7 linked regions of the Homo sapiens genome follow. The protein of the gene in region 6 purifies or fractionates together with the protein of the main gene of each other region. This does not show direct contact. Each region holds a gene or a part of one and is shown on either strand. Other genes may lie near its edges.

The links.
Region 1: the proteins of TPX2 (region 6) and NCOA5 purify together in Homo sapiens (affinity purification with mass spectrometry; one large-scale study listed by BioGRID and IntAct). This does not show direct contact.
Region 2: the proteins of TPX2 (region 6) and PHF3 purify together in Homo sapiens (affinity purification with mass spectrometry; one large-scale study listed by BioGRID and IntAct). This does not show direct contact.
Region 3: the proteins of TPX2 (region 6) and SFSWAP purify together in Homo sapiens (affinity purification with mass spectrometry; one large-scale study listed by BioGRID and IntAct). This does not show direct contact.
Region 4: the proteins of TPX2 (region 6) and PPP1R9A purify together in Homo sapiens (affinity purification with mass spectrometry; one large-scale study listed by BioGRID and IntAct). This does not show direct contact.
Region 5: the proteins of TPX2 (region 6) and YLPM1 purify together in Homo sapiens (affinity purification with mass spectrometry; one large-scale study listed by BioGRID and IntAct). This does not show direct contact.
Region 7: the proteins of TPX2 (region 6) and DCAF13 purify together in Homo sapiens (affinity purification with mass spectrometry; one large-scale study listed by BioGRID and IntAct). This does not show direct contact.

The regions. Positions count from the first base shown.
Region 1 is NC_000020.11:46,065,963-46,069,462, forward strand, and holds part of NCOA5 (nuclear receptor coactivator 5), read right to left. Parts: intron 2,677-3,500; coding exon 2,540-2,676; intron 1,220-2,539; coding exon 1,093-1,219; intron 1-1,092. UniProt on the Homo sapiens protein: Nuclear receptor coregulator that can have both coactivator and corepressor functions.
Region 2 is NC_000006.12:63,634,457-63,638,601, reverse strand, and holds the start of PHF3 (PHD finger protein 3), read right to left. Parts: upstream 2,801-4,145; 5' UTR 2,452-2,800; exon of another isoform or gene 1,809-2,451; coding exon of another isoform or gene 1,807-1,808; exon of another isoform or gene 1,780-1,806; intron 1-1,779.
Region 3 is NC_000012.12:131,752,590-131,756,089, reverse strand, and holds part of SFSWAP (splicing factor, suppressor of white-apricot homolog), read right to left. Parts: intron 2,968-3,500; coding exon 2,727-2,967; intron 1,723-2,726; coding exon 1,591-1,722; intron 705-1,590; coding exon 611-704; intron 1-610.
Region 4 is NC_000007.14:95,271,094-95,274,593, reverse strand, and holds part of PPP1R9A (neurabin-1), read right to left. Parts: intron 696-3,500; coding exon 608-695; intron 510-607; coding exon 426-509; intron 1-425. UniProt on the Homo sapiens protein: Binds to actin filaments (F-actin) and shows cross-linking activity. Binds along the sides of the F-actin. May be involved in neurite formation. Inhibits protein phosphatase 1-alpha activity.
Region 5 is NC_000014.9:74,829,316-74,832,815, reverse strand, and holds part of YLPM1 (YLP motif-containing protein 1), read right to left. Parts: coding exon 3,473-3,500; intron 1-3,472. UniProt on the Homo sapiens protein: Plays a role in the reduction of telomerase activity during differentiation of embryonic stem cells by binding to the core promoter of TERT and controlling its down-regulation.
Region 6 is NC_000020.11:31,745,790-31,749,289, reverse strand, and holds part of TPX2 (targeting protein for Xklp2), read right to left. Parts: intron 1-3,500. UniProt on the Homo sapiens protein: Spindle assembly factor required for normal assembly of mitotic spindles. Required for normal assembly of microtubules during apoptosis. Required for chromatin and/or kinetochore dependent microtubule nucleation.
Region 7 is NC_000008.11:103,441,670-103,443,953, reverse strand, and holds the end of DCAF13 (DDB1- and CUL4-associated factor 13), read right to left. Parts: intron 1,160-2,284; coding exon 1,072-1,159; 3' UTR 501-1,071; downstream 1-500. UniProt on the Homo sapiens protein: Part of the small subunit (SSU) processome, first precursor of the small eukaryotic ribosomal subunit.

The sequences.
Region 1 (3,500 bases), about 14 Mb from region 6:
GTAGGTGCTCAGAAAATAACAGCTATTATCATGTGTCCAAAAAAAGCTCTCTAGAGTTAAAAGCAGCATCTATCACTGAACAAGACAGCCAAGAGCCTGTGAACTCTGCCTACTGCTTGGTGTCTCAACACCTATTTCCCTAGTCACTGCCTTGAAATTAGCTCTTTAACCCCAAACTGCTAGAAAATACATGAAGTTATTTACTTAGTACCACCTAGGGAAAGGGAACATAGCTACTGCCAAGCCTGCAAGCTGCTATACTCCTTTCTGCTTCTCTGCTCTGCCTCTTCAAGGAGAAAATGTAAAACAGGGATGCAGTGAAACAATGCTATAAGCCCTAGCTTGGTAACATGGTCATGTAACAGTTCTGCAAGGCCATGGTACTTCACAAAGACTTGGTTCTTGGCTGACAAATGCAGAGGCGTGTCTCCCAAAGTATTGGGCATTTGGGTTGTCCCATGAAGGGAGTATATACTACTCTGCTTGACCAGCGGCTACACCCTCTTCCACTCTCAGTCTGCATGGTTCCACAGGGCTAATCCCACCTCTAGCTCTTGGGATGGGAACATGACTTAGCCCTGGCCAATCAGAACACCCAGCACCCCTGCCAAAGTGACAGGCTCAGGGATGGGAAAGTGAGTCAGGTCAATCTAAAAAGAACTGCAGAACTTCAGGTGGAAACACTGGGAAAGAGAAGTTCTCTTTCCACTTGGCTTGCTAAGCTAAGAAGACACACGTTCAGGGCCAGTGCCATTCTGCCTCTTCAAGCACAAAACCTGCCTGAGAACAAAGGCAAATCTGAGGAAAACAGTGCTTAGAGACTAACACAGAGACCAATTTTGATGACATGGTTTGATCCTGGATGTGGCTGTGCCTCAATTTCCCAGTTAATTTTTGCTTAAATGAAAAATGTCCCTTTTGGCCTCAATTTGAATTGAGTTTTCTGTCACCTATAACTGAAAGAACCCTGGCTAACAGCGCACAGCAATGCAAGAATACACAGCTCAGATTCAGTGGATAGAGGTGCTAAACAGGAGCCTGAATTTCTCTGACTCTTCTCCTTACTGGGGAGAAATATCTAAGGGTTCTTACTTTGTCTGTTTGTTGACCACAATCACAGAACAATCAACGGGCCTTTCGGCATCAAAGCGTCTCTGGATTTCCTCAAAATATTGACGATAAAGCTCTTCTCTACGCCGTTCCTCACGTTTCAAACGCTCTGCAAAACACCACCAGGGTAAACTGAAATAAGGACTGGACCCTCATTTTAAATCCTGAGCTACTTGTAGGCAAAGGTCATAATACTCTGAATCAATCCTCTGGTCTATCTCCTAAAAACAGCCAGTATTAATATTTTTTACTATTATAAATTAACCAAAATGTAATGCTGGATTAAAGGACGTGGCCATTTTAATGCTGCATCTGATACTTACTGCCAAGCTGCTCCCTGAGAAGGCTGATACTAATTTATACCTCCACAGAGGTAGATCATCTAGTGCCTATTTCTCCACACCTTAGTCAACAGTGAGTACTGTCATTCTTTTTAAGTCTTGCCAACTTGACAGATAAGAATATTATTATTATTCTAATCTGCATTTTTGCTTTTTTTTTGGGGAAAAAATCAAGTAGTAAAGTTTAAAATTAAAAATTTAAAAGTTCTTTTTTTAAAAGAAAAAAATCAAGTATAAAGTTTAAAATTAAAAAATTAAAATTAAAAATGAGATTCTTAAAGATTTCAACTTGGCCAGGTATGAAATAATTTAAGAACCTTTAAAGATGTATTGAGAAAAACCAGGCTTTAAAAAGACATGTTTGCCTTCATCTAAAAAAGAGATGCTGTTAGGTAAAAGTTATAAAAAAAACCAAAAACCTATTTTGCCTAGATAATGCAGATAGTCAGTCATAGTTACTTGGTCAGTAGGCAAAAAACAAGCACTTAATGTCTTCAGCTCCAATCTTTTGTTCATTTTTCTCTTTTTTTTTTTTGAGACAGGGTCTCACTCTGTCACCCAGGCTGGAGTGCAGTGGCACAATCATGGCTTGCTGAGACCTCAACATCCTAGGCTCCAGCGATCCTCCTGCCTCAGCCCCCCGAGTAGCTGGGACTACAGGTGTGCACCACTGCACCAAGACAATTTTTGTATTTTTTTTTGTAGAGATGGGGTTTTATCATGTTGCTTAAGCTGGTCTTGAACTCCTGGGCTCAAGTGATCTGCCGGCCTTGGCCTTCCAAAGTGCTAGGATTACAGGTGGTGGCCACAGTGACCAGCATTTTGTTCATTTCTTATTGCTGGAATTTCATATTTATTTCTTCTTGTTGGATGACTAAACCAGATGATGGTACTAATTTGCATCTTAAAAATCATTTTCAAGCCAAATGCTCTTTACCCACTAATAAGCTACTTATATTTCTTCTTTTTATACACTGCTTGGCCAAGGCACTAGCCCTTTTTCAGATGGGGGTACTGGTTATTAGTTTCCTCTCTCTTTTGTAAAGTGTTCTATCAATAATAGGAATAGACTGTTTCAGCTACTTTACCTTTTGCACGAGACTGACTTTCTGGGCCTGGAGGGCCCCGTCCATCAAAGCTATCTCTGTAACGGTCAAAATAAGAGTCATCCTTTCTCCTGCAATAGTCATCCATTCGTAGGTATCGGTCATAAGAGCCTTCTCTCCTGAAAAGTTAAGGAAATTTTCATAAAGATAAAACTGTGTCTTATCCTGAAAAAGTCACCTAGAGAATTCTCTGGGATTAGACAAATGAGGTTTATATCTGGGACTCACTGCATTATCAGCTCTGTGGCTGTGATAGAGTTAACCTGTCTCACTGAGATGATGTACAGAAAGCACTTAGCATGGTCTTTGGCATATATTAAATGCAAAATAACTGGCAGGAATTATTGATACTAGTTTTGAGGAAACATTACATGTCCCTCCCTTGTGCTTTTTAAAATTATATCTAAACGCATATAACAATAATTTGCCATTTTAACAATTTTTATTATTATTATTATTTTTTTTTTAGTAGAGATGGAGTTTTGCCATGTTGCCTAGGTTGGTCTTGAACTCTTGAGCTCAGGCAATCCAATCCGCCCACCTCGGCCTCCCAAAGTGCTGGGATTACAGGCGTGAGCCACTGCGCCTGGCCTAACAATTTTTAAGTATACAATTCAGTGGCATTATATTCACAATGCTGTGCAACCATCACCATTATCTAAAATTTTTCATCACCTCAAACATAAATTCTGTATTCGTGAAATAACTCCCCTCTCCCCAGCCACTGGTAATCTTTAATCTATTTTCTGTCTCTATAAATTTGCGTATTCTTGATATTTCACATAAAGTGAAATCATACAATATTTGTCTTATGTCTGGCTTATTTCACTTAGCATAATGTTTTCAACGTCCTTCATGCTGTACCACAGATCAGAATTTCATTTCATTTTATGGCTGAATGATACCACATTATATGAATACACCACTTAAAAACAAATCCACA
Region 2 (4,145 bases), on a different chromosome or scaffold from region 6:
TTGACACTGTGTGGTGAAATATGTATTGGTAATACACAAACCTAAATGTTGACCAAAAAATCTCATTATCTCACTAAAAAACAGAAAAGTTATTATCTCCAGAAAAAACATATGTAAAAAGGATTTTATGAGAAATTTAAATGGATCTTAAGAAGGCAAAATGTATCAAAAAAGCAAACACCATCCCACCATGTTAAGGAAGATAAACATCATCTATTTCAGTAACTGAAACACAGAATTGTATGTATAATTTTCATTCACCAGTTTTTCCAAGTAGGCCTTATACTATGAAAAAAATCTAAGCTCTTGATTTTGCAATACTCCAAATTGCCACTTGCTGCCTCCCAACTTTTATAAGTAATACATTACATAAGTCAAAGACTGTCAACTTTCCTAGTGGATTCCAATACTCAATAAAATTTAAATTTTAATAACATAGTTTGAAATGATTAAAGACAAATTCCTTTCGATTTTTCTATCTTGAAATGTGCATCTGACCAAACCAATTTTTTACCTACATTTACATAGACCACTTCTCAGAGGTGACTTTTCTGATTATGCAACATATAAGTATACCATAAGATCAACATGATAAAGTTATCTGAAGTCTATCCCAACAAGAGAGAATGCATAATTCACGTGTATGCAAAAGCAGTAAAATAAACTATATTTTTCTATTCTTCAATAAATGAACCTATAAAAAATGTAAATAAGAGGCAAACTTTGGTCCCATCACTGGCTCATTTTTATCATTTTGACAAATTACCGAGTACAGCTATCTGAAAAAGCTTAAAATCTAAAGTTGTAATCTTTTTACATAAAAGTAGCCCGTTTCGGGACTGATTGTGTGGCTCAATCAGAGGAATCATCACTCCTAAAAGTCTGCCACTAAACTCTGCTACTATCACCAGAAAATGAAGTATGTATTGTAAAATAATAATAACAGTGATAATGACGATGATGAAGGAAAGAATCATTATGGTAATATATAGCCAGTAAACAGATGAATGAAGAGAAAAATTAGTGGGGAAAAGGTCTAAGTGATAACTAAACTTTAAAATTACTATTTAAAATAACAATAATCTTTACACAACACCTTTTTGTGCTGTGGAAGGGAGCTATAAATTCAAAAACATAAGTATGCTACAATAGAAAAGTTTCTGGTGCTTTGACTCAACATGTCGCTCTAACACAAACATACATCTTTTTCTACAAATATTTTCACAGTTCCAAACACTTCATTCAGGAATCGAAAAATGAATAATGGAGGCGTAGTTTTGTTAGGCCTTTAACAATCATTTTGTCAAAGGGAAGACAAGTTCGACCCCAAAATAGTAACTAAATACAACAACGTACTGTTTAAGTACTCCCTACAGAGTTTACTGCATTGGTTTTTAAATTTAGCTTAAAATAAGATAGTAAAGTTAGTATTTAGAGAAGCCTCAATAATCGATTATTCTTTTTAAATTAAATATCGCTACATGTAATGCAGATTAGGACTAGAATATTAAAGCAGTGTTGCCACTTAACATTAATCCATGAACATATTCTACGCGTGACTACTGGAAAGCACTAATAACCACCCCAATCTAGTCTCTAGGAATTGGCATTTAAAAGCCCAAAGATGGAAAAAGGTCACCTAACCCGGCAACACATCCTGAGGGAAAGGAGGGACACAGGACTCCGTGCGCGATATCAACATTCTCTTCCTTTCTACTCTCCGCACCGCCCCCGCCCCCCGTGTCAGGTGATCAGTTATTTAGCACCATTAACACGTACGTATCGACAAGTGGTTCATTAAATTACATGTATTATCGGAAGGCAAGAGTCTAGGCTTCTCATTTCAAACTAAGCAAAAGGAGTCCACAGTTTGAGTCCCGGGCACAAAAGCGCGCGGTAACTGGAGGATAAATGGAAGAGCAACTCTCATCTCCAAAAAGCAGCAGCAGGGAGCAGCCTAGCAGCCAGGGCCAGTCCCAGTTTCCCGAAACCAAGGCCCAAAGCTCCATGCTGGGGCTCCCTGAGAAGGAAGAGGCCCCAACGGCCGGATCCGGGGGCCTGCGAGACGGGCCTTCCAGGCAGCGCCCGCCGTGCCTCGGGCCTGCGCGCCCGCGCCTCAGCGGCGGCGGGGCGCCCTCGCAGCAGACGGCTGGGTACCAGTGGTCGGGAGAGAGGCCGTGGTCCCGACCCTCCGCCTGGCGACCGCGTCGCTGCGACTCCCTCCCCAGCCCGCGGTCCAAATGGTCCACAGGCGCCAGCGGCGCGGCCCAGGTAGGCCGAGGACGTTGCGCAAGAGGCCCGAGAGGCGATCTCTCGGCTGCGCGGGAGAAAAGCGCGGAGAGTCCGCCGCGGGAGGGGCGGAGAGGCCCGCGGAGGCGCTGTGCGTGTGGAAGGGGATGGGGGAGGGGAGGATTGCCCGTCTCCCTGGCCGCGGCCACAGCCGCAACTCACCCAGCTCCGCCAGACGAGCGCTACCACTGGCAGCAAGAGGAAGATGGTGGACGCTGCCGCCGCCGAAGAGGAGGAGGAGGGGGCCCGGTGGGTGCCGCGGAGAGGGGGTACGCGCAGGACGTCGGCGTCGCTGCCACAGCCTCTTTTCCTCCTGGGACCAAATGGCTGCTGCTGACGACACTATTCTTGGCTTCCGCGCCGCCCTCCTAATCCTCGTTGCAGCCGCCGCCGCCCTGAGCCCGAAGGTCGCTTGCCGCGTGGGGACGGTGCGACGGCGCGAGACCCCGCAGCCATCGGCGTGCGGCGGCGGCGCGGGAGCTGGAGAGGGGCCGTGTCACGTGACCCCACTGTTTACCGTTCCGGGGGCCGCGGCCTGCGTCGCTGCCGCGCCTGCGCGCTTTAGGGCCTCGAGCGCCGCGCCTCCGTGGGGCCCCGGGCTGCAGCGCTTCCCGGCGTTGCCGCGCCCCTCCCTGTCTTCGGAGGACGCGGCACCGCCTGCGGGCTTCTAGCTCACACCTCCGCGCCGCCGGGAGGGGCGAATCAGAGGAGCGCTTTTTCTCGACCGTAGTAAGCACTAAGGCTTCACAGTTAATATAATATTGATGCGCAGCTCCCCAACCCCAGGTACTTTTTATTAATTGACTGTGAGTTCAAGAATGGTAGAATAGGATGGAGTAGATGAGCCCTCTGCCCAAATATCTGTGCTGGCTCGGCACAGCAGCCTTACCATTAACTACCTCCGTTACCCTCACCCTACATGGCTGATCTACCTCAGGACTCAAATTGCTACCTCCAAGAAACATTCTTGGTATCCAGTAAGCAGTCTTCAGAATGTGGTCCCAGGTTTCCCTGAGGGGTCGCCAAGACCTTTCAGTAGAGCCTCCATTCCTTTGCCAGGAGCATGTGTCTAAGGCCAAATTTTCTTCCCACCCTTCAACCAAAACAGCATATAGCAGCTGATTCAATGCAGAAACAGATAAGAGAATCCAGCCATCTTCTATTAAGCCAGACATTGAGGAAATCTGCAGAAATTTTAGATATCACCCTTTTATTAATTTGGAAAATATGCTTTTCATAAATACATTATTTGTGGTAACAAATATTGTGTAGAGGTCCAGAGACAAAAAAAGTTTGAGACCCACTGGTCTGCTTCCACAGACACTTGAGCTAACCCCTATCTCAGCCCTTAATAAGCGCTGTGAAGTAATTGTTGCTTGTCAGTCACTCCAACCAAAAGGAGCTACTTAGGGACAGGGTTTGTGGCTTTTATCTACAGGGACTATTACAGTATTCAGCCAGTACCTGCTGAGCACCTTACTGTGTGGTCTGCACTGTTCTAAAACCTTTACAGTACTTGTTGATTTAAGCTTTAGACCAACCGCAGCCCACATTGTAAGATTAGTGCAGGGTGGAAGAATAAGTCACAGGCATGTGGTGAAGATCTGTTCTTTCCTCTCTCTAGTCTTCTGATATTTTAAGCACTCTTAATAGCAAATGCTCTTCTACAAAGGAAGTTTGGGTTGTCCTGATTCCACTGGATTCTTAAGAGTTTCACCCCCTGTCTTGACTAATCAATCCCTCAAGACTTTGTTTTACAATCTTTTTGTAATGTGTTTTTGAGAAAGGAAAATAGAAATGAGTAATTTTTTTTTTTAATTCTCACTTGGGATGTCTGGGATGAATTATAAAAACAA
Region 3 (3,500 bases), on a different chromosome or scaffold from region 6:
TCTCCTGAGAAGTAAGGCCCATGTCATCTCCTCACCAAAACTGGCTTTACAAAAATGTCAGGGTGTCTATATAACTGAGAAGAGCAGAGCAAAGGCAGAAGAGGGGGCTGTAGGACAAAAAGCACTTCCAAGTGCGCCAGCACCACGCTGGGGATCTGGTGAGGGGGAAGGGCGTGCAGGCACAGGCAGAGGCCGTGCTGCAGGACACCCCCAGCACCAGCTGGCCAGGCATGAGGCGCCCACTTATATTTTATATATTTCATACATGTTAACACAACAGAAGCAAGGTACCCGGCTGTCATGAAAGGTAGCTAGTAACTGTAGACGGCCAAAACATCGAACAGTTGAAGGAACAGGATTTTTTTTGTTTGTTTAGAACGTGCTGGACAAACAATCATCAATGCTGTGAACGTGGGCAGATGCTTTCAACAGATCAGGTTCCAGAGCTAAGGGGGACGTGAAAGATGGAGTATGCCAGACACACATTAAAAAAAGGTGAAGAATCACCCAGCCCTTTCACCTGTAGGAGAAGAAACAGAAAGCGACTTCTGATCTGGAAGGCGGAGCCACCTCTAAGAGCTTCACAGCCTCCCTGCATTCAGACACGTACCTGCATGCTATCGCCCCCTTCTTTCTGGAGGAAGAACTGCTTCTTAAACTCATAATAAGCATTATACTGGTGCCACGGCTGCAGGAACTCAAATCTGAGCAGAAAAAGAAAGAAAATGGGTCATTTACCAAGACAAGCTCACTGAAGTAACAACAGGCCCTGTTCTCCTAGCTCTTTACTGATCTCAACAATCCCACAAGGTGGTTACTGTTTTAGCTACTCATCTTATAGACGAGGGAGACTGCACACAGGGGGTCGAAATCGCTTGCCCGGGGTTACACAGGTCACGCTGCAAATGTGACAACATATCTTTACGTTTTATTAGTACTGAGGCGTGGGACATTGCTTGGTTTTTAAAAAGAAGGGTTTGTGTCTAGATTTTTAAGGCAGATTCTTGAAAACCATGAATTATAGGCTTTTATTTTAGGTAGCTTCAAAATTCCTACTTAAAAAATGAAACAAAAAACAGGTAACATAATTTAAAAACACCACCCAAGTCTAAGCAATTTAACAAGCCAATTAAAAAATGTATTTATCTAAAGACATTGGTTGGGCGTGGTGGCTCACATCTGTAATCCTAGCACTTTGGGAGGCTGAGGCAAGTGGATCACTTGAGGTCAGGAGTTTGAGACCAGCCTGGCCAACACAGTGAAACCCTGTCTCTACCAAAATACAAAAATTAACCAGGCGTGGTGGTGCGCGCCTGTAGTCCCAGCTACTCAGGAGGCTGAGACAGGAGAATTGCTTGAGCCCAGGAGGTAGAGGTTACAGTCAATCAAGATCGCGCCACTGCACTCCAGCCTGGGTGACAGAGCAAGACTCCATCTCAAAAAAAAAAAAAAAAAAAAAAAAGACATTTGAGCCAAGAAAAGGCTTAAAAATATATAAAAAAATTAATTCTGTACCTACATTTTTTTAAAAAAAGGCTAAACGAAACCCCCAAATGCCATATACCTAACATATAAAATTCTTCTTCTGACCTTTGATCATTCTTGGCACGAACACTGGTCTCGAACTTCAGGCCGTTCCTGGCGACATACTCGGCCAGCTTGTCAATCACGGGCTGGACGTCGGGGGGCGGGGGGATGATGGCGGCCACGGGGGCAAGTGCACTGCAGGAGAAGAGTCTGTGAGACCCCTGGGCTTCAGGGGCTCGCCAAGCTCAGTCCTGGCTGCTCGGGGGTCCTCACCGCCTCAGATGCCCGGAGAGACATGTGAGTTATAAACAGTGTGTTAGGGGAGGCTCTTGTTGAAGGTGATGCACACGACAGAAACTAAAGTCAACTAGACAGGATTGTTGTCAAGAGTGAAAAATGGGGATTTTAGTGATAAAAGGTGCATTTTTCCTACTAATTAACATTTCCCCCCAATCACAAGCTAATTCTTAGAAATAACAAAGAATAAGCAGTTTGTTGTTGTTGTTGTTATATTGAAAACAAGTCGGCAAGCATGGTTCAACCTCCTTCATTTCCTGTCTGACTTGCTCAGCATGACCAGAAAGAGTCGTTTTCACAGAAACTCGCGTGTTTCATTCCATTTCCCAGGAGTCTCCTTTCAAGGCAGGGCATTCCAGGCCCACTGGTAAAGCGCCTGTCTCATACTCGTCCCCTGAACACTGGGGGCCCTCGCTGCTGGAGAAGCTAGGGCTCTGCCGATGGCTTCACAGGTTAACTAAAGTAGCTGCCAGGGTCCCCTGGTGGCCAACAGCTTGGGAGAGACTCATGAAGCACCCCAACATCACCTGCGTCAACTTTATGAACCTGCATGTTTTGCAAACAACTGCAGCTTCACTGCATACTGATTTTGCCTAGCACAGCTCAACTGAGACTCTGACACAAAGCGCAAGAACAGATGCTGGAGATCTGGGGCCAGCGTGCGACGTGAAATGAATTCAACTTTATAAGTGGTTTAACTTCAATGCTAAAAAGTTTGTGCTACAACCATTTCTGTTTTCCTGTCAACTTTGTAACTTGGGGATTTGGAATAATAACTACTCAGACAATGGGGACCCCTGTATATGATCTAGATTACAAGCCCCCCATGGAGACACAGACGGCCCCAGTGACTGCAGTGCTGAGTGACTCACACAGCAGGCAGCGGTGGACGCTGCACCTACCTTGTGGTGGTGGTTGTGGAGGTGGCCCCGCTGCTAGTCTCTGCTGTGGTTGGGGGCGGTAGTGGTGTGGTCCCAGGAGGTGGTGGGGCGGTGGTCGTCACTCCAGGGGAGTTAGACACGGTCACGCCAGCAGGAAGGGTGCTGTAGTAAGTAGTCACGTCGATTCCGGGAGGGGGCGGCGCCAGGCAGTAAGTGCCGTCCGGTAGCATGTAGTAGCTGTAATACATGGCTGCCACGGTCGCTGTGGAGACACATTGCCCCGGAGTGAGCATGGCCGGCCACAGGCTGGTCCATGAGTCCACAATGCAGCCACAAGAGCCCTTCCCCCGGCAAGATGCAGCCTTGCCTCTGCTCACTTCCAACCATGCTGTTTTCTAGATTTTTCTGATACAAAAAGTTGTCTGCACAATATGCAATTTAAAAGAACCAGGCAAAGCCACAACACGCATCCAAAGACAGATGGAAAGCGAATGGCATGAGGACATTCAAAGGCACCAGATATGAATACTCTCTAGACAAATTAATGTCCTCCTTAACTTCAAAATGTGCAGGTTGGGAACAGTCTCCTCTCTAGCGGCAACCAGTCATCCCTTTGCTCACACGGCCCACGAAGGCCACCTATGCTCCTAAATGCACATGTGAGGAAATGCCTTTGGCTAGCTCCCCGCGCTGACACCTGCTTTCATTCCCCAGGCACGCTGCTCCCTCCATTCACACGTTAATCCGGAAACCATCCCCTCAGTAAGGCAGCTGCTCCTGGCAACCCTGGCGTCA
Region 4 (3,500 bases), on a different chromosome or scaffold from region 6:
TGGACAAGACAATCTTGAATGTCAACAAGGTACTTAAATGCAAAATGATTATCCTTTTAGACTTAATACAATGCACTAGCATTGTGGGTAGCCAGGCAAAAAATCTGAAGTATCACATAAATATATTTGATATTTCTGAAGTATCACATAGATATATTTGTGCTGAATTTAGATAAACACTTATTGAAATGGTTCATGTGGCCATAATTCTGCAATTAAGAACCAATGGATATGCCCAAGGCTAGATGGAGGCTATAATTGGAGTAAGACCAATATAAACTAATTGTGCAATTTTTCTTCCATCTCAATTCTTGGCATATCACTTTAGCTCAAAGATACTGACCACTGATTTTGGTTAACAATAGAAGAGGGGGCCAGAAAGTTTAGGTATAGAAATACACGTGTTCTTAATCACACAACCGTACCTGCTACCTGCAGAAAACCTACTGGCTTCTTTTTCTTTTTCTTTCCACTTCTTTCCCTTGCTGGAATTCCTTCGCAAAGGCGCCCTGTAATGATAGTAAGCAGTCAGAAAGGGGAAGCTGAAATTTTCTCTTTCAATCCTCCTTTTACAGAGGGCTTTCTTTTTACATCGTGAAGTGCTTACCCCAGATCCACAAACTTCCGCTTAATTTTTCCTCCTTGCACCGCCAATGAACTGGATGCCCTTAGTGATTTGGGATCTTTGGCATCATCTAGGATATACACATTTGTGAAAAAGATCAATTATTATTATTTTTAAAGTCACAATTCAAAAGTCAATGCATCTCTGAATCTAAGGGCTTTGCCTAAATTCCTAATTGTAAAATAAATAATCAATGCCTTCTTATACGACCTAGGAGACACAGTTACATTGAGGAACTCGCAGTTAAGCAGGGGAGGTCCTCTATAGGACAGAGGCTCAACATTCATCACAAAGAGTTTTAGCTTCAACTGCATGGGAATGAACAAGGGAGAATAAATACTCTCAAATCATCCTCTGCATTCGAAGTAGGGACCAACATGACTTTTGTTCCTTCTCTGGCTCCAAATTCTTGGCTTCAAGTGCCTGGGCTCTGTCCTCCATTCCTTTCTTGCCTTGGGGTTGTAGTGCCTTCTAACAGGAACATAGCCCACTTCTCCCGTATCTCCAAAGCCCAGCGCAGAATATCACCTCTGAGAGTCTGGGAGATTTAGGGGGAAAGTCAGAGTCAAAGTTTTCTTCTCTGGCTCTCCTTTGCTAATGGCCTGTGGCCGGTCCTGGAACAGAGGAGGGGAGGACATGGGGGAGACTCCTTAAACAGGGGCTCAGCTACAAAACATTTATATCTTTGAAAGGGCCTTCTTAATAGTTAGGTTACAGCAAAACTTGGCTGGTTCCCCTTAATGTGGAAGATGCCAAAATCTCCTCAGTGTTCAGAGCAGACTGATCTTTGCCTCTAGGACTCTCAAAGGTAGCAGCTGCTGGGGAATGGGGACCCTCGAAATGATACCAAAAGCCAATAGGAAGACAGGCTTTGCAAATGGAGTTCAATGTCAAGGTGGGAACCAATTCCACTGGTGGCACTTGTTCCATCTCGGACAGGCTCTACCCAAACTATTCAGCAGAGGGTACTGATCGGCATCACGTTTCAGCATATCCAATTAGCTCAGATGATTAACAAATGCTGTTTTAAATTTGATGTTTTTTATGTGTGAAACTCTTCCTCCCCAGTTCTTTTTTGGTATCTGTTTTTCTGTCTCTTATCTTTTAAAATGTGTTTTAAATTTCTAGGAACTTTCTAGTATGGAAGGCAAAGAGAATGGCCCTCTTAAAAAAGTGTTCAATTAACTTTGCAGGTTAATGTTGCTCATGATTTTTGTTTACTTCAAGAGAAATTTCTCAACACACATCGACATACACCTTTAAAAAACATGAAGTACACACACAGTTCATGGATAGCAGTCTAGGTTCAAAGCTCTCAAGCAGCACAGGACACTGACAAATACTCCAAATGTTTTTAGCAATGAGCTTTTCATATTTTTAGTTAATGATACTTAGATTACAATAAGCAACTCACTGAAATGTACATAATGAAACACAAGAGTCAGAAATATGTCTGTGTCAAAAATCCACTTCAAGCCTCAAATATTTATTATGCATATTTGCATCATTACTCTTTGGGTAACTGAATTGTCACAGATGTGACACAATCATATAAAAAAATCCATAGACATAGACATGGCACAAACACCTTCTAAGGTGATTTTACTAATGGATTTTATTTTTAAAAGCAAGATTTAAATTTTCTTAATAGAAGCTGAAGAAAAGAAAGTGCCAAATTCTTCCAGATCAATCCTAAAGCAACTCTTAATGGCTAGGACTATGCAAAGTTAAAAGGAGACTGCCTAATTATTTCCTGAATGAGAGGTAGCTGGGAGATGTTACAATGAGCGCTGAGAAGACCAGCTGAGGCAATGTACACGAAAACACTCTGTAACCCATGAGTGTTGCAGTTATTTGGACATCATGCGACTAAAAGCCTGATTCTGCCTATCACAGAGCTTGGTGCTAGGCAACCTTACATCTTTATCTCACACATTTGCCAAAGTGCGTTCCCAGGAACACTGAAATGAATGCTTCCATAGGGCTGAAGATGTTAAGAATAAGGAATAATGTACTTTCCCATTTAAAATCGATTAAATCCATCTTTAATGCACACTAGAACTTCTAGTCTGCATAAAATCCAACATTAGATTGGTATGATTTCAGGAAAAAAGAAACATACATTTTGTTTATTTAGCTCTACGTAAGACTTCTGTTAGGCTTTTTAAAATCTCTCCAATACTACCTTTGTGACCAATTATACATCTGAGCCCCCAGATTGGGTGCCTCAACTTTAAGCTGTGGCAACCTGGTTTTCATTTTCAAATAATAAATGATCTCCTGATGGCCAAATCCTAAGGTCTTGTACTGGACTGCATCTCCTTAATCTCACTGTAATAAGATACTTGACTATCTCTTCCTTTATAATGGGGACTCCCAAATCTACCTGGCAGTCCTGACCTCTCTCTTGCGCTCATGACCTCCTCTGTTAAAAAAATGAGTTAATCCTATTTCCCCCATCATGTTGCTGATTTCCTATTTTCTGTTAATGACAAGACCATATGTTCTGAGGCGTGAAGCCCATGATAGTTTTGCCTCACTTTCTTACCTGTTACCTAGTCAAGGTATGTCTCAAGGGTCCTTGAATCATTCTTTCCTGTCACTGTCTACTGCTCCTCTTTAGAGGGCACCACCTCATAGGGTCTCCTAACTCAGCTTCTCCATACCTGGTGGTGTCTTTTCCTTTTTATTCCTCTGGTCAAACTTCTTGTGGTTTCCTAGTAATATGGCAAGTTATCTAAGATGTTTAACTTCTAAAGCTATATACTTAACCTACTGGCTCACTTTTGTGTGTAACTACTCCACCCTGCATAAGCAAACTGCTACAGCCAGGCTGGGATAGCCTTGTACCTTTAAATCATATGATATGTGCCTG
Region 5 (3,500 bases), on a different chromosome or scaffold from region 6:
GTATGTTTGCGAATAAATGTTCAAGATTTTAACATTGGAATTAGGCCAGGCACAGTGGCTCACGCCTGTAATCCCAGCACTTTGGGAGGCTGCAGCAGACAGATCACCTGAGGTCAGGAGTTTGAGACCAGCCTGGCCAACATGGCGAAACCCCGTCTCTACTAAAAATACAAACAAAATTAGCCGGACGTGGTGGTGGGTGCCTGTAATCCCAGCTACTCAGGAGGCTGAGGCATGAGAATGGCTTGAACCTGGGAGGCAGAGGTTGCAGTGAGCCAAAATCACCACTGCACTCCAGGCTGGGCAACAGAGTGAGACTCTGTCTCAAAAATAAAAAACAAAAAAACAAAAAACAAATGAAGTTGGAATTAAAATATTTTGGAAACTATTGTATTTTGTTAATATCTCTAATTTATACTGATGCTATAGTAAAATTATTTATTTACATGTTGAATTCCTCCACTGGATGTCAGCTCCTTAAGAGGACTCATTCATAGACTTCGTACAAAGACATTCAACATATGGAATGAATAAATGATTACCGAACCACTAAACATACAAGGAGCAGAATAATGACTTTCAGCTTGAAATGGCTTCTTGAATATCAGTGTCCCTTTTAATTTTCCTAGAGGTACTTTTGAGACTTACGACATTTTTGCTGTTGTTTTTTCCTGTAAAAATAAATTTGTTATAATACAGAAAAATCTTAACTAGCCCTCAAAGGTTTGAGGTACTTATATTTCATCCACTGTAACTATAAGTATTTCTAAAATATACAAATTCAGCAAACAAACAAGGGAAAGGTTCACCTTCCATAGTCATCAAAGAAATACAAATTAAAGTCCAAGTAAGCTACCATTTTATACCCAAGCAAGCAAATATTTTAAAAGTAAATTATATTTTAAAGCCTAGCCATTTAGGCAAAATTCTAATATAACCAACTCTACAGAACCACGTTTTTGTTATAGAGGAAGTTAATCCCAAGAACCCATCTGATATCTGTAACAAGCTGAATCACAGAAACAAAGAAACCCAAGAAGGAATGAGTAATGTACAGCATTCTGTATTCTTTGCTACCTGTAGGATCTCCTGTGCTCTAATGTTGGTTTTGGTGAGTGGTTCAAGAGTTAAAAACTATCTGAAGTCAAGGTATAAGGCAGGGGAGGAGACTTAAAGAGGAGCAACTTTAAAGAACTAGAATGTGCACCACTCAGTTCTCTTTGGTCACCCAACCTAATAAAATAAACTGCATGGGATTACATACTCCTCAGTGAAGACAGTGATAGTTACCTGAGTAAAAACAGAGAAAATATTTCTCATTTTAGATTACTAATTGTTACCAGAACTACACTTTATTATTTGCAAGGAAGGGCCACTTCTGCCTCTGTTGGCTCCAGCCTTAAAACTGGAGTAAGAGGTATCACTATAAGCAGTCCTTTGGTGAGGCTGGGTGCAAATGGCAGTGGGCTCTCCCTTACCCATCCTTTGAAGCTACACAGACAAGGGCAGGCTTTGGAGTATCTGCAGTATTTTAAAAAGCTTTGAAACCTGGATTCTTTGTAATGGTGCCCATTACTAAGTACACTAAGCACATTAAGGCACTGAGAAAATTCGTTAAGAAAGAAATACAAAGAAATGATGCATAAAGATAAATGATGCACAACCTCATTCTTAGTAAATAAATGAAAAATGAGATACTATTTTTTTCACCTATCAGATTGTCAAAAGTTAAAGAGTTTGATTACAGCACTGCTGTAGAAAAACAGGCAATTATTTGCATGTAAGCGTGTAAAGAGAGACATACACACCACAACCTTCACATCTGTACTGGCAATAAATGGAAACACTGTAAGCATCCATCAGTAAAGACATTATGGTTTGGATGTTTGTCCCCTTCAAATCTCATGTTGAATTGTAATCCCCGATACTGAAGGTGTTTGGGTCATGGAGGAGGATCCTCGTGAATGTCTTGGTGCCCTCCTGACGGTAATGAGCGAGTTCACACTCTGAGTTCATGTGAGATCTGGTTGTTAAAAGGAGTTGGGACCCCCTCCCCTTGGTTCCTCTCTCGCCACGTCACATGCTGGCTCCCCCCTTGTCTTCCACCATAATTGAAGACTTTCTGAGGCCTCACCAGGAGCTGATGCTAGCACCATGCTTCTTGTACAGCCTGCAGGACAGTGAGCCAAAATAAACCTTTTATCTTCATGAATTACCCAATCTCACGTATTCCTTTATAGCAACGCAAACGGACTAACACAAAGGGACTAGTTAAATAACTGATTGTACAACCAAACAATGGGACACCAAGTAGCCCTTTAAAAAGAATGGTAGTTCTGTATATGCTTATATAGAAAGATCAAGATGGATTAGCTGAAAAAGACTTCTACACAACAGTATATATAATACGATCCCTTTGCTTTATTTTGTTTTAAAGGATATACACATCTATCACTATCGAATTCAACATTTATGTAAAGACCTATCTAATATCCTAGCTTCATTTCTCTATTCCCTTTCACAGCAAAACTTCAAAAAGTTGCCTATATATGCTGTACTGTACTTCATCATTTCTTATTCATTCTTTAATCTGCTCCAAACTGGTTTCTGCTGCCTCATCACTGTAGACTGATGACAAACTACAATCATCAGTGACCTCCATGTTGCCAACATCTAGCAGCCATTTATCTGTTCCAAACTTACTTGTCTTTTCTGCATCATTTAAAAACTGACTATACTCTTTCCTTCTTGAAACACCTCTATCTGAACTAAATTTTGGAGGTCTGGCGTCCTATTACCTTTTCCATTTATACTTTTTCCTTGGGCAAGATCATTCAGTCCCACGGTTTTAAATACCATTTCCTGAAATTTGTTAGTTCAGTCTGATCTCTCTGGTGAGTTTTATACTAATAAATCCAACAGTCATTTTGACATTTTCACTTATATTTCTAACTTAATTAGAAGAAAAATTAGAATTTCTCTCACAGAACTTAAATCATTTCTCTCAGTTCCAAAAATTATGACCTATGACTCCCCCAGTTTTCTCTCTCACTAAATGGTACTACACACATGCAGTGCTCATGGCCAGAGTACCAAGGGGTCACCCTTGATCTACCTTTGGACCCTCCACATCCCATCCATTAAGAAGTTCCACAGGTTCTCTTCAATACCCTACTCTGTACCTGGCTTTTTTTGCCCCATGACAAAATAGCACAAGTGACTGGCCACTCCCAATGCCTTTAAGGTTGACAACGTGCTAGCCATGTGAGGTTCTGTTCTCCAATTTTTTAAGCTACTTGTACATTTTGATGAGATAATTTATAAGGTATGACTCCTTCTTGGGATACATGACATAGCGTAAACTAAATCATTCTAAAAATAGCATCCATGTGATCATCTGCCTGTAACTTCCTAAAACCAGATGCCTAAATGGGCCCTTCATTTGTTGGCAGTTATTGACAAAGTCTCTTACCCTCTTCTTCCCAGGCTCAGAAGCACGA
Region 6 (3,500 bases):
TGGTGTTCTTATCCACTGCCTATTTATTTAAAAATAGACATTTAAGCTGGGCGCGGTGGCTCACGCCTGTAATCCCAGCACTTTGGGAGGCCGAGGCGGGTGGATCATGAGGTCAAGAGATTGAGACCATCCTGGCTAACACAGTGAAACCCCGTCTCTACTAAAAATACAAAAAAATTAGCCAGGCGTGGTGGTGGATGCCTGTAGTCCCAGCTACTCGGGAGGCTGAGGCAGGAGAATGGCGTGAACCCAGGAGGCGGAGGTTGCAGTGAGCCGAGATCGCGCCACTGCACTCCAGCCTGGGCAACAAAGCAAGACTCTGTCTCAAAAAAAAAAAAAAAAATTCACATTTAAATAGATAAATAACAAATGTCATGGAGCAAGAGATAATAACTTCCAAATACTGTCTACTGTAGGCCAGGCACCTTACCAGACACTTCACATAAATCATCTCGTTTAAACTGCATTAACAATATAGACAATAGATAGATGTCTTTATAAATAAATGCTACCATCACCATTTTATAAACAAGGAAACAAGCTCAGAGAAGTTACACTATTCCAAGATCACCAAACTAATACATAGCAGTGTTGAGTTTTAAAAGAACAAGTCTGCAGGATTCCAAAATCTGGGGTCTCTCTAATGCACAAGTTTTCCTATAAACATTGCTTCAAAAAGGAGGTAGGTAATCAAATCATAAGATCCTGTTCAACAAAGACAAATCCTGCCCTTTATGAAAACTAAGCATCCCTGATATGCTCATAAAGAAAACTTTAGCAAATTACAAATCCTGTTATAAATATATTTGGAAAGCTCTGATCTGAATCTTCCCATAAATTTTTTAAAAAATCCATTGATTCCTCTTTTTTTAAGTATACTTTTCCATATGAAGTTTTTCCTCTATATAAGATGGTGGTTAGTGAAAACCTCAGTGATATTCTAGAGTAAAGAGACTATGAAGAGGGTTCAAGCAGCAGAAGAAAGGCTGTCCTCTGAGGTCTAAGACTACATTTGATTAGTGGGGAACAAACGGCGAGGGGTGCAAACCTAAGTACACTTAATCTTTAGGTGAAATTTTAAAAACAAAATATTATTTTCCTAACATGACCTGTTCTTTAAAAAAGCTTCTTTTAAGCTATATTTTGGTCTAGAATGGCCAACTCAGGAGACCATCCCCTCTCCCTGGAAAAAGAGAATAAATAAATACATATCCATTGAGAAGTCTGACTCTCTTCAATTAAGGCTGATAGGACAAGTACATCAAGAAAACGAAAAGCTAACTACTGGGTAATTTCGGTTTCACGACACTACCTCCCCCAGAAATAATAAATATGAGGATGTGAAATCTTCCAAAATTAAAGTCCACAGGGCCTAGTGGGAAATGGAACAGGCCAGAGCCAAAGGCAGCTGTTTAAATGAGAGAGCCCCAGGCATGGTGGGAACTGGATGCCTTCCTGCGTCCCTTAATCAAGATTGAATTTCTGTCAACAGGTCTCACCAAAAAAAAAAAAAAAAAAAAGGCACATGCGTCAACCACATTCCCCCAAACAAATCAAGTTGCCAAGCAAGAGAATCAGCTTCACATTTCAAAATTATCTGAATCTACCACAGCTTCAGATTCTTGCAAAACTAGAAATATTCTGCATGGAAAAATAGCTATTAATGACCAATATTCCTACAAAGACCCAAGGAAAAAGCCTATCCTGTATGCTATGAACCAATTAGGTTCCTCTAAAAACTGCCTATTCAATGCCATCCATCGTGTCTTATAGCCCATTTTTGTTTCCAAAAAGCGAAGACTAAAACGATAGATAGATAGATAGATAGACAGACAGACAGACAGACAGACAGAGATAGAGATATAAAATCTCGGCCGGGCACAGTGACTTATGCCTGTAATCCCAGTACTTTGGGAGGCCAAGGCAGGCGGATCACGAAGTCAGGAGTTCGAGATCAGCCAGGCCAACATGGTGAAACCCGTCTCTACTAAAAATACAAAAATTAGCGGGCGTGGTGGGTACGTGCCTTTAATCCCAGCTACTCGGGAGGCTGAGGCAGGAAAATAGCTTGAACCCAGGAGGTGGAGGCTGCAGTGAGCCGAGATTGCACCGCTGCACTCCAGCCTGGGACAGAGCGAGACTCCTTCTCAAACAACAACAACAAAAAAAAATCTCTTCCCTCCAAGAACGCACAATTGAATGGGGGAATGCAAACAATTACAATATAGGGCTATCCTTGCTGCAAGAGGGCATTAACAGAGAGCGCTCTGGAAGTGCAGAGAAGGAGAACAGCATAAAAGAGGATCAGAGATGGTTTCCTGATGTAAAAAATACTTAAAAGATACAGACAGACCTGCGGAGTTCTACAAGCTAAGAATGAACGTTGACTTTTTCTAGGGTAAGAGATAAATGGAAGGGGAAGACAAATACAAATTAGGAAGATTGCAGACAAAGCAATGTAACCTGTTCCCACATTCATCTGAAATTAACCTCCCATTGCCTCCCATCTTTCTTCACTCTCAAACCAAAAATAACTAGTCTTGACAAGCTCTATAAATCAAAAGGTGCAGGTTCAGACCGGGTTGGGGAAAGCTGCAAGAGGGTGCATTCTAAGCAGGGTGAAATAGGGGACTACCAGCTCCTGAGCAAAACAAAGACTTTGGTGTGACAGATGCTCTCAAACACCTTGCTATCCAGTCAGTGAGATATGACTTGCCTATTTCTATTAAAGAGAAAGTCATGAGTTAAACTGGTAATATAATAGAATAAACAGAGTAAGACAAGACTTCATTAGAAGTATAGTTAGTTAAGATGGTCCCATCCCAGGCAGTGCCATTTCTCCAGGGACATCCTCTCCTACTTTCACAAGGGATAAGAGATCCTGTTACATTACCACAAGTAAAATAGAGTGGAGTTACTTTCATCTTACCCAGAGAGAAAACACCTACATTTTTTTCTTGTATATAAGGGATTAGCAGCAGTCAGTAAATGGCAACATAATCCAGCATGCAATTTTAACTGTTAATCAAAGTCACAAACTAAGTCTGAAGGAAGTTTAATGGACTTTGTGTTTCCACATTTATGTTTGCTAACTTCTATGTTGAAATTGGATCTGTTTACAGAAACAGATCTATGAAGCTTCCAAAATTGGGTCAATTTAAAATCCAATGACAATCCCTCACTGTCCAACACTCAGAAGTCAGCACAGGACACATGGACACTTGTTCTAATTCATCACTGTCCAGAAACTTCAAGCAAATATATTTCCTATCATTTCTCTCCCAAACTTGTATGTTTCATATTGCCCTTTTTTAAGGATTACAAACTCAGTTTTGCTATAATTTATCCATAGAACTCAACAAACCATAATCCACCTATGACTAATAGGACCTAGATGGAAATCAATGATGCTGTTTACTACTAGGACAGATAATGACAGAGAGCTTTGTAAAATACTAAAAGGAAATCTTAGTAGAAACCCAAAGTAATCTGATATTCCA
Region 7 (2,284 bases), on a different chromosome or scaffold from region 6:
GCCCATAGACTCAACCAACTGTGGCTCAAAAGCATTTGGAAAAAAGAAATTGCATCTGTACTGAACATGTACAGACTCTTTTTTTCTCATCATTATTCCCTAAACAATACAGTATAACAACTATTTATTTAGCATTTACATTGTATTAGGTATTATAAGTAATCTAGAGATGATTTTAAGTATTTGGGAGGATATGCAGAGGTTATATCCATATACTATGCCATTTAATATCAAGGACTTGGGCATCCTTGGATTTTGGCATCAATGGTACATCTTGAAATCAATCTCCCACAGATACAGAGTGATGACTGTATTCTTAACACATTCTTTTCTTTGGATTTTAAAATCTCTTCTTTACTTAACATCTCCTAAAATTTGGATTTATACATATTTATAATAAAGTTTATTAAGTTGATGATTAAAAAAAGAAAAACCTATGTTACACAGAGCTATTTAGGATTTAGTGAGATTGAAAATTATTTACCAAAAATAGGCCAAAGTTTCAATGCTGAAAGGAACTTTTAATATCTTAACTTGACCCAAATTATATTATTATTTATAAAAGTTATATAAATGCAGGCTGATTGTTTTAAAAGAGTCAAAAAGCCAAATATAAGTAAAGCACTAGAAATAAATTCAGTTGTAAAAAATTGACATCATTATTCTAAATGTTATGTGGAATCACAGGAAGAAACATCATTGCAATCATTATTCAAAGTAATATTAAAGATAACATAAGAGATGTTTGGTCTTAAATGTCAATTTGAATGTATAGTGTCTACAATAATAGATCAAAGAGAAAGTAAGTATATCTGTAATAAAAACAAGAAAAAATGAGTTGCAAATACTGTATTCTACAATGAAAGAAGAATGCAGATTAAGGATAAAACAGTCTTACCAACTAGGCCACCTTTAAGGATCATTTTTCAGGGTAGCTAAAAGGAGTAACAATAAAGCTCTACACATATAACTAAAATGTTTGCAATTAATCTAGTCCCAGCACTTTTATTTGTAGAGTTCTCAAATCAAAAGTAACAAATAATTATACATCAGGATTGTTAGGAATACCAATTATTTTACAACTGCCACTACGTGTTTCTTCTTCTCTGACACAAGTGGCACAGATCCAGGCTTGCTGTGTTTAATACGATTCACTTCCCTAGAAATAAAATATACAAAATATAAGCAAGTTATGGGAACTCATCTTAAAGAAAACTTTCTCAGAAAAATCAAAGCATTTTCTTTCACTAGAAAAACACCTATTTAAAAAAATATTTTCACGATGACAATAGGTAAAAGGAAGCTAGTACCAAGAAATCAACTTTACTTATTTAATTGCTTCTTATCATATTTACCTAATAGGGTCCTTTACTAAGTTTAAAAACCTTCCACAGTTAATAAAATTTCTAAAAGTGATTCTACTGCAACATCTACCCAAAGACAGAAAAAAAGAGCCATTTGTATATTCTAATTGAAAAATAAAGAGCTCTTAGAATTTCATGCATGACTTCAAGTATTTCAAAGAGAAGAATATTTCACGGGAAATGGTGGTGGTGGTAGTAGCTCTGCTCTATATCCAAAATGATAGATGTCATGTTATAATAAAGTATATCAGAACACTTTTTACTTAAGAAAAGAGCTCTACTATAGATTAATTCTTTAACTTGGAAAATACACAAAATCTCTTAATTCCAGCTACATCAGAAATTATTTTTTAAAACATTTTTTACAATAATTTTTTAATATGAGCAAGTGTTTTCTTATTTTGGTAACTCATTTTCATCGTTTGTCCTTTAAACATATTCTCAAAAACAGGTAATGGAAGTTCTCCCATTCTCAGATAGTCACTGCTTCCCTTTTTTGGGAAAAAGAAAAAGAAATGGCCTTCTGGGCGGGGCATGGTGGCTCACACCTGTAATCCCAGCACTTTGGGAGGCCGAGGCAGGCGATCACGAGGTCAGGAGATTGAGACCATCTTGGCTAACATGGTGAAACCCTGTCTCTACTAAAAATACAAAAAATTAGCCGCGCATGGTGGCGCGTGCCTGTAGTCCTAGCTACTCAGGAGGCTGAGACAGGAGAATGGCATGAACCCGGGAGGCGGAGCTTGCAGTGAACCAAGATTGTGCCACTGCACTCCAGAGCGAGACTCCGTCTCAAAAAAAAAAAAAAGAAAAAAGAAAAGGCCTTCTGTAGAAGTCTTCAAACACATCACTAACATACTATTAAATAATAGCACATAAACTACTCCCTTGAATGGCAGTTAACTTTGTTTTTGGTGAGA